2 separate regions of the Homo sapiens genome follow, and region 2 is linked to region 1. The links come from fine-mapping of genetic effects on gene expression. A gene starts in region 1. The other region holds a variant in brackets. All regions are shown on one strand. Distances are from middle to middle. Region 1 holds the start of ZNF660 (zinc finger protein 660). Region 2 has its middle 180 kb from the start of MIR138-1.

Region 1 (5,207 bases):
AGTGAAATGTAAACATTGCAAGAAAAAAAAAGAATTAGAAGAAAGGCCTAAGCCTCAAGGGAAAGGCTAACACCATGTGAAAAAGCTGATATATCTGACACATAAAAATTTCTGTATTCCAAAAAATGCCATAACAAATCTATAAAATAGAGTTTGCCTTATACTGGAATTGCTTGTGTGTATGTCTGTGTCCATCCTCAAATATATACATTAAGCTCTATGCCCTCAGAGAGCAGTTCCCATGAGATTTGCCTGTAGATACCACATGGTGTCTGACACAGAGAGGGCTCAGTCAGCATTGTTTGATTTGAAATGGTAAATTAAACAAGTTTAAGATTCTAACACCTGGAGTGCACATAGGGATGCTGAGAGCCAAATCCACACATCACTACTACCATCCCTCCTCTACATGTTTGTCCTTTTTGTGCTTCATATTATCTGGGAAACACCATAATGGTGTATTTGCATTCTTGGCAATTCTGTCTCAACAGAGTCATCCCAGGGACTAAATTCCCTAAGAGATTGACCTGGTCCCACTATTCAGAGACTCTCAGTATGTCAGAGCTGGAAGGAACCTCCCAGTCTATCCAGTCTTATATCCAAATGTACAGAAGGAAAACTTGGAACTTAGAGGAAAGCTGGGACTCAAATCCAAGTCCCATGACACCCAATTTTGAGTTCTACTACATCACCCTTATTCCCATCTGAAACAAAACTCTACTCCTCAAGGTCCAGAGGCCCCCTGCCCACTTCAGTGCTTTTCTCCTGTTTGATAAATACCACTGAGAGAAGCTCCCTTTCAACCCTGGTGCCCACAAGCAGGATTCCTGTGCCCAGACTAACTTCACAATCTAGGCCTCACCTGCCCAGGAGAGAATGGAATGACTCACCCATATTCCTGTGCACAGCAGCCTCAATCCAAAGGATCTGCACAGCACAGATCTTGCCTGATCTCCTCCTTGAGTTCAGTGAAGAAGTTCCTAAGAGGGTCTTGAGTCACTGTAAACAGATATAAATGACTGAGTTCTCTGAGCCCTGAATTCCAAGTGGACACTCAGGGCAGTGTCCCATCTTTGGGTAACTTCCCTTCCTATAGAACTGTGGGCAGTAAGAAGGATCATTTCCAGTGTAAAGATGAGGGAATGAAGCTCCCAGGGATTGAACGACTTGCCCAAGGTCCTATAGCTAGTGAGTGATTAAAAAGCCTTCTGTGTCTTCAGGAAATCCTAATTCCATCACACCACAGCCTCCCCTTTTCACCTGCTCCATTGATATCTAAAAGCTTCCATATTCTCATCTAACTGCAAAATACAATGCAGTGGAGAACTTCCTTGCAATCCAGCTTTCCACAGAAAGTCTGCACAAGGGGGATGAGAGGGAGAACTTTGCTGAGTCAAGTGTCTTTAGGAAGACAGAAAGAAACAAGTCTTTAAAAGAGCACTAGAAAAAGAATGTTCCTTTTTTCTGTTTACCCATTTCTTAGGATTACTAAGCCTCAAATATGTTTTGTGTTTCCCCCTCCAGATCCCCAGGCTCTGCTTCTAACCCTTGAAGTTTGTTTCATTTCTCCCCTACTAGAATTTAGTTCTGTCCTGTACACAACCATAACCCCAGGACCTAGCACACTACTGGGTTAGTGCTCAATAAATATTTGTTGAATGAATCAATGAATGAATGAGTAACCTTGGGCAAGACTCCGTCCTCTTCTCTGGGCCCCAGGTTCCTCACTGGTAACGGGAGGGATATTGGACTGGTGATTTGAGTCAAATACTCAGGGGCTGTGGAGTCCTGAGAGCCTAGGCGGGACTCGACCGCTACTACCCGGAAGGCCCACTGCCTAGGAGCGGGGACGACACAGTGCTGTCACCACGGCCAGCCTGGTCCAAGCGAGCAGCTACGAGGAGTCAGAGACTGGACCCAAGACAAAGGGGCAGCACTGAACGAGAGAAAGGGGAGGCCCACAACGACCCCTTGGCTGCCGCGCCCATCTCAGCAGCGGGCAGCCGCAGAGGAGCCCTGGCCTCCTGGCTTGCGTCTCCCACACGCTCCCAGAACCCGGCCCGACCCCCCACGCCAGACTGTAGAGCACCCCTCACCGAAAGCGCCAGACCCACATCTTGAACAAAGCGCAGAAGGAACTGCGTCAGCAACTCCCAGCTAACTCCCAGCCTGTCCCTCCGGCCCTTCTAGGCTTCGTGAGGTTTCCACATCTCTGTGCCCGCGGGCTGGAGTCCCCCCGCCCCTCAGAAGCCCCGCGCGGTCGGCCGACGCTCTGGCCCTGCCTCCCTTCCGGGCTTTGCCCTATCATTGGATGGAAGGGCTTGGCGACTTCAGCCAATGTGAGGAGGGCCCTGGAAGTGGTGGAAGCTGGGCAGGGGGCTTGGTTAGGGCGGAAAGAGACCGAGCATCTGGGTGGCCAGGCTGCCAGCCTCAGGCTGAGACTCCCTAAAGTTACACCCCCAGCTCCGGTTGCTGAGCAGAGAGGTCATCTTTCCTTCCACAGATCTGGGTCATTCAGCCTCAAAGCCAGGATCAGCTATGGTTTATTGGCAGCATATGAAAAGACGTTTTGGGTGCCTACTATGTCACTCACTGTTCCAGGCGCTGCGGATACAGTAGTGAAGAAAATGAACTCTCTGCCCCATTGAGTTTACATTCAAGTCAAGGAGACAATGATAAATAAATATGTAGAACGTAGCAGTAAGGGGAGAGAGGGAGTAAGGGGAGAGAGGGAGATAGTGGTGGGACTATTTTACAGATGACAGGGAGGGCAGAGACAGGAAGTGGGCAATTGAAGCATGTGGCTATCTGGGGAAAGAGTATTCCCATAGTGGGCCATTAGGAGCAAAATTCTTTAATCAGGAGTGGGGTGGAGAGGTGCACATTTAGGATCTTGTAGACTATGATAAGGGCTTTGGATTTGCTCTGCATAACAGCTGGAGGGCTTGGGGACAGAGGAACGACATGATCTAACTTTTTTTCCCTTACCACATATTCAAAGACTTGTTAGCTATGAGACATGAAAGAAGCCAAGAAGCCTGTTACTATAAATTCTGTGAATTCTTTGCTGTCTGTCCTTAGCCATTCTAACATAAACCTTGCATGAATTTTGCTCTTTGACTTATATTTTTAGTTTGCTTTGGCTGTCTTGTTGAGAACGGTCTGAAGGTGGGTAAGAGTAGAATCAGGGAGATTAAGAGGCCATTACAATATTCCAGATGAGGACTGATAGTGGCTTGGACAGGCTTAGAAGTGATGCAGGTAGTGAGAAATGGTTCTGCATATATTTTGAAGGCATGGCCTGCATGATTTGCTAATGAATTGAATGTTGGTTACTGATGACTCCATGGTTATTGATCTGAGCAACTAGCATGGGATGGTCTTTTAGAAATCGAGTAGCTTGAAAGGAACAGGTTTAGGGAGAGGGATTAATAGTTTTGTTTTGGATGTGTTAAAGATGCCAATTAAACATCCAAGATGAAATGCCAAACAGGCAGTTGGAATAGGAGTCTGGACTTCCGTGAAGAGATCACAGCTAAAGACATAAATTTGGAAGTTGTCAGGACAGGATGAGACAATCTAGGGAATGATTTATCTAAGAAGGAGTCTGAGAATCAAGCTTTTGAAGTACTTCGTCAATTGACAAATATTCAGTATTTAATATTGTTGAGTACTTAAAGTATACCAGGAGCTTTCTTCTCCATTGGCTCATGTAGGTGGCACAACTCCGCCACATTGTATAGAGATTGAAAAAGAGATTCAGACAAAAGTCCTCCACAAGTTCACACCCTCAGTTGATGTGGGACGTAGAACTCGGGACACTCTCCTGAAGAGCACAAGACTACTGCCACTACATCAAGAAACTTAAAAAGAATAGGCTGGGTGTGGTGGCTCACGCCTGTAATCCCACCACTTTGGGAGGCTGAGGCGGGTGGATCACCTGAGGTCAGGAGTTCGAAACCAGCCTGGCCAACATGGTGAAACCCCGTCTCTACTAAATATTACAAAAATTAGCTGGGCATGGTGGCAGGCGCCTGTAATCCCAGCTACTCAGGAGTCTGAGGCAGGAGAATCGCTTGAACTCGGGAGCTGGAGATTGAAGTGAGCCAAGATCACGCCATTGTACTCCAGCCTGGAAGACAAGAGTGAAACTCAGTCACACACACACACACACACACACACACACACACACACACGAATATTCATGTACATTAAGGGAGCTGTGATCTTTAACTTACTTAGTCTTCCCTTTCACCTACTCTTTCATTTGGGTGGGTGGGGCCATTCATTCTGATTCAAGCTGCTAACCCTACATCTGGTCCCAGGGAGGAATGATTACTCCTTAATATTCTAGTCCAGTAATTCTCAAATTTTAGAGAACGTAAGGGTCACTAGAATATATGTTAAAAATAGATTCCAGCCTGCCTGTATCCAGCTTCTATTGCCCTTATCCACAAGCATACTTTTTCCTACAAAAATCTATTCATTCAGTCAAGTATAATGTCACTGCTCAGAAATCAGGGTGTTTTTTTGTGTGTCATAATTGCCTAAATACTCAGCAATTTCAATCTTTATTATGACATCTATCTGCCAAAGAAATTCTAACTCATTTGGGTAAATGAAATCAACGTCTAGTTGGTCAGGTCTTTTTAAGTTTGTGGACTAGGCCATCTAAGGGGAAAAAACATTGTAATTTTAGTCAGTTGACAAGTCTTAACCAGGCATCATTTCAGGAATACCCACAGGCCAGAAAGGTGGGCCGTCATACATTGCTCTCCTATTGTGTTTTCATGTAAAGCACTCACATGCCTTAAAAGGGAGTCTGCATCTCACCCTACTTGGCATCCACCTGGGTAAAGTGACCCTGTGCATATATTAGTGGAGGACTGTTATGATTTGGTGAATAATAAATCTAAAATGTCCTATCCTGGATCAAGTACTAGCACCACTAGGTGCTTGTGGAGCCAGCTGTAATCGTTAACACCTTCCCTGTATCCAGCTGTGGCAAATTCTACTGGTCCCCATCAGGGCAGAGCATGACCTGATGTTAGGGATAGGGGATTTACTTTCAATTCTTTTTATAGTGCCACCATGTGCGTATTCACAATTGACAAATTCACAACCTGTCCCTAACCCCTAGAGGTTTTCAGGAATGCACGCTCTGTAGTACTCCAGAAAAAGGTCAACATCTTGACAGAACTGTCTCC
Region 2 (5,207 bases), 650 kb after region 1:
CATGCTGCTATAAAGATACATGCACACGTATGTTTATTGTGGCACTATTCACAATAGCAAAGACTTGGAACCAACCCAAATGTCCATCAATGATAGACTGGATTAAGAAAATGTGGCACATATACACCATGGAATACTATGCAGCCATAAAAAATGATGAGTTCATGTCCTTTGTAGGGACATGGATGAAACTGGAAATCATCATTCTCAGTAAACTATCGCAAGGACAAAAAACCAAACACTGCATGTTCTCACTCATAGGTGGGAATTGAACAATGAGAACACATGGACACAGGAAAGGGAACATCACACTCTGGGGACTGTTGTGGGTTGGGGGGAGGGGGGAGGGATAGCATCAGGAGATATACCTAATGCTAAATGAAGAGTTAATGGGTGCAGCACACCAGCATGGCACATGTATACATATGTAACTAACCTGCACATTGTGCACATGTACCCTAAAACTTAAAGTATAAAAAAAAAAAAATTCCCACCTGCCAGCTCTGAAGAGAACAGTGGATCTCCCAGCACAACGCTCGAGCTCTGCTAAGGGACAAACTGCCTCCTCAAGTGGGTCTCTGACCCCCGTGCCTCCTGACTGAGAGATACCTCCCAGCAGGGGTCAACAGACACCTCATGGAGGAGAGCTCCAGCTGGCATCTGGTGGGTGCCCCTCTGGGATGAAGCATTCAGAGGAAGGAATAGGCAGCAATTTTTGCTGTTCTGCAGCCTCCACTGGTGATACCCAGGCAAACAGGGTCTGGAGTGGACCTCCAGCAAACTCCAGCAGACCTGCAGCAGAGGGTCCTGACTGTTAGAAGGAAAACTAACAAACTGAAAGGAATAACATCAACATCAACAAAAAGGATATCCACACAAAAACCCCATCCAAAGGACACCAATGTCAAAGACCAAAGGTAGGTAAATCCACGAAGATGAGGAAAAACCAGTGCAAAAAGGCTGAAAATTCCACAAACAAGAACGCTTCTTTTCCTCCAAAGGATCACAACTTCTCACCAGCAAAGGAACAAAACTGGACAGAGAATGAGTTTGATGAATTGACAGAAGTAGGCTTCAGAAGGTGTGTTAATAACAAACTCCTCCGAGCTAAAGGGGCATGTTCTAACCCAATGCAAGGAAGCTAAAAACCTTGAAAAAAGGTTAGAGAAATTGCTAACTAGAATGACCAGTTTAGAGAAGAACATAAATGACCTGATGGAGCTGAAAAAGACAGCATGAGAACTTTGTGAACCATATACAAGTATCAATAGCCAAATTGATCAAGCAGAAGAAAGAATACCAGAGATTGAAGATCAACTTAATGAAATAAAGCATGAAGACAAGATTAGAGAAAAAAGAATGAAAAGAAATGAACAAAGCCTCCAAGAAATATAGGACTATGTGAAAAGACCAACCTATGTTTGACTGTTGTACCTGAAAGTGGCAGGGAGAATGGAACCAAGTTGGAAAACACTCTTCAGGGTATTATCCAGGAGAAATTCCCCAACCTAGCAAGACAGGCCAACATTCAAATTCAGGAAATACAGAGAACACCACAAAGATACTCCTCGAGAAGAGCAGCCCCAAGAAACATAATTGTCATATTCACCAAGGTTGAAATGACAGAAAAATGTTAAGGGCAGCCAGAGAAAAAGGTTGAGTTACCCACAAAGGGAAGCCCATCAGACTAACAGTGGATCTGTCTGCAGAAACCCTATAAGCCAGAAGAGGATGGGGGCCAATATTCAACTTTCTTAAAGAAAACAATTTTCAACCCAGAATTTCATATCCAGCCAAACTAAGCTTCATAAGCAAAGGAGAAATAAAATCCTTTATAGACAAGCAAATGCTGAGAGATTTTGTCACAACCAGGCCTGCCTTACAGGAGCTCCTGAAGGAAGCACTAAACATGGAAAGGAACAACCAGTACCAGCCACTGCAAAAACATACCAAATTGTGAAGACCATCGACATTATGAAGAAACTGCATCAACTAATAGGCAAAATAACCAGCTAGCATCATAATGACAGGACCAAATTCACACATAATAATATTAACCTTAAATGTAAACGGGCTAAATGTCCCAATTAAAAGACACAGACTGGCAAATTGGATAAAGCATCAAGACCCATTGGTGTGCTGTATTCAGGATACCCGTCTCATATGCAAAGACACACATAGACTCAAAATAAAGGGATGGAGGAATATTTACCTTGCAAATGGAAAGAAAA[A/T]ATAAAAAAGCAGGGATTGCAATCTTAGTTTCTGATAAAACAGACTTTAAATCAACAAAAATCAAAAAAGACAAAGAAGGACATTACATAATGGTAAAGGGATCAATGCAACAAGAAGAACTAACCATCTTAAATATATATGCACCCAATACAGGAGCACCCAGATTCATAAAGCAAGTTCTTAGAGACCTACAAGGAGACTTAGACTCCCACACAATAATAGTGGGAGACTTTAACACCCCACTGTCAATGTTAGATGAACAAGACAGAAAATTAACAAGGATATCAAGGACTTGAACTCAGCTCTGGACCAAGCAGACCTAATAGACATCTACAGAACTCTCCACCCCAGATCAACGGAATACACATTCTTCTCAGCACCACGTCGCACTTATTCTAAAATTGCCCATGTAATTGGAAGTAAAACACTCCTCAGCAAATGGAAAAGAATGGAAATAATAAAAAACCGTCTCTCAGACCACAGTGCAATCAAATTAGAACTCAGGATTAAGAAACTCACTCAAAACAGCACAACTACATGGAAACTGAACAACCTGCTCCTGAATGACTACTGGGTAAATAATGAAATCATGGCATAAATAAATAAGTTCTTTGAAACCAATGAGAATAAAGACACAACATACCAGAATCTCTGGGACACAGCTAAAGCAGTGTTTAGAGGGAAATTTATAGTACTAAATGCCCACAGGAGAAAGTGGGAAAGATCTGAAATTGACACCCTAACATCACAATTAAAAGAGCTAGAGAAGCGAAAGCAAGCAAATTCAAAAGCTAGCAGAAGACAAGAAATAACTAAGATCAGAGCAGAACTGAAGGAGATAGAGACATGAAAAGCCCTTTAAAAAATCAAGGTATCCAGGAGCTGATTTTTTGAAAAGATTAGGTAGACTGCTAGCCAGATTAATAAAGAAGAAAAGAGAGCAGAATCAAATAGACACAATAAAAAATGATAAAAGGGATATCACCACTGATCCGAAAAAAGTACAAACTACCATCAAATAATACTATAAACACCTTTATGCAAATAAACTAGAAAATCTAGAATAAATGGATAAATTCCTGAACATATACACCCCCCCGTCCTGCCCACCAAGACTAAACCAGGAAGAAGAATCCCTGAATAGAACAGTAACAAGTTCTGAAATTGAGGCAGTAATTTATACCCCAATAATCAAAAAAAGCCCAGGACCAGACTAATTCACAGCCAAATTCTACCAGAGGTACAAAGAGGAGCTGGTACCTTTCCTTCTGAAACTATTCAAAACAACAGAAAAAGAGGGAATCCTCCCTAACTCATTTTATGAGGCCAGCATCATCCTGATACCAAAACCTGGCAGAGACACAAGAAAAAAATAAAATTTCAGGCCAATATCCCTGATGAACATCGATGCAAAAATCTTCAATAAAATACTGGCAAACCAAATCCAGCAGCACATCAAAAAGCTTATCCACCACGATTAAGTCGGCTTCATCCCTGGGATGCAGGGCTGGTTCAACATATGCAAATCAATAAATTTAATCCATCACATAAACAGAACCAATGACAAAAACCACATGATTATCTCAATAGATGCAGAAAAGACCTTTGACAAAATTCAATACCGCTTCATGCTGAAAACTCTCAATAAACTAGGTATTGATGGAACATATCTCAAAATAATAAGAGTTATTTATGACAAACCCAAAGTCAATATCATACTGAATGGCCAAAAGCTGGAAGCATTCCCTTTGAAAACTGGCACAAGACAAGGATGCCCTCTCTCACCACTCCTATTCAACATAGTATTGGAAGTTCTAGCCAGGGCAATCAGGCAAGAGAAAGAAATAAAGCGTATTCAAATAGGAAGAGAGGAAGTCAAATTGTCTCTGTTTGCAGATGACATGATTGTATATTTAGAAAATCCCATTGTCTCAGCCCCAAATCTCCACAAGCTGATAAGCAACTTCAGCAAAGTCTCAGGATACAAAATCAATGTGCAAAATTCACAAGCCTTCCTATACACCAGTAATAGACATACAGAGAGCCAAATCATTAGTGAACTCCCACTCACAATTGCTACAAAGAGAATAAAATACCTACGAATACAACTTACAAGCGATGTGAAGGACCTCCTCAAGGAGAACTACAAACCACTGCCCAAGGAAATAAGAGAGGACACAAACAAATGGAAAAACACTCCATGCTCATGGATAGGAAGAATCAATATTGTGAAAATGGCCATAATGCTCAAAGTAATTTATAGATTCAATGCCATCCCCATCAAGCTACCACTGACTTTCTTCACAGAATTAGAAAAAACTATAAATTTCATATGGAACCAAGAAAGAGCCTATATAGCCAAGACAATCCTAAGCAAAAAGAACAAAGCTGGAGGCATCATGCTACCTGACTTCAAACTATACGACAAGGCTACAGTAACCAAAATAGCATGGTACTGGTACCAAAACAGATATAAGACCAATGGAACAGAACAGAGGCCTCAGAAATAACGCCACACATCTACAAGCATCTGATCTTTGACAAACTTGACAAAAACAAGAAATGGGGAAAGGATTCCCTATTTCATAAATGGTGTTGGGAAAACTGGCTAGCCATATGCAGAAAACTGAAACTGGACCCTCTCCTTACACCTTATACAAAAATTAACTCAAGATGGATTAAAGAGTTAAATGTAAGACCTAAAACCATAACAACCCTAGAAGAAAACTTAGGCAGTACTATTCAGGACATAGGCTTGGGCAAAGACTTCATGGCTAAAACACCAAAAGCAATTGCAACAAAAGCCAAAATTGACATATGGGATCTAATTAAACTAAAGAGCTTCTGCACAGCAAAAGAAACTATCATCAGTGTGAACAGGCAACCTACAGAATGGGAGTAAATTTTTTGCAATCTATCCATCTGACCAAGGACTAATATCCAGAATCTACAAAGAACTTAAACAAATTTACAAG

The links.
Region 2: its variant is fine-mapped to the expression of ZNF660 in ovary (GTEx, PIP 0.99).

Annotation. Positions count from the first base shown.
Region 1 is chr3:44,581,897-44,587,103 of GRCh38, reverse strand. ZNF660 (zinc finger protein 660) reads right to left here and starts at 2,140. Exons shown (of 3, transcript NM_173658.4): 1 at 2,097-2,140; 2 at 891-999. ZNF660-ZNF197 (ZNF660-ZNF197 readthrough) reads right to left here and starts at 2,140. Exons shown (of 8, transcript NR_147692.2): 1 at 2,097-2,140; 2 at 891-999. All of the region lies in intron 2 of ZKSCAN7-AS1 (ZKSCAN7 ZNF cluster antisense RNA 1), which reads left to right. It also overlaps a transcript of ZKSCAN7 not described here.
Region 2 is chr3:43,935,296-43,940,502 of GRCh38, reverse strand. No RefSeq gene overlaps it. Among named protein-coding and RNA genes, the nearest start is that of MIR138-1, 180 kb to the left of the region's middle. The variant A/T (reference allele first, on the strand shown) is at 2,232.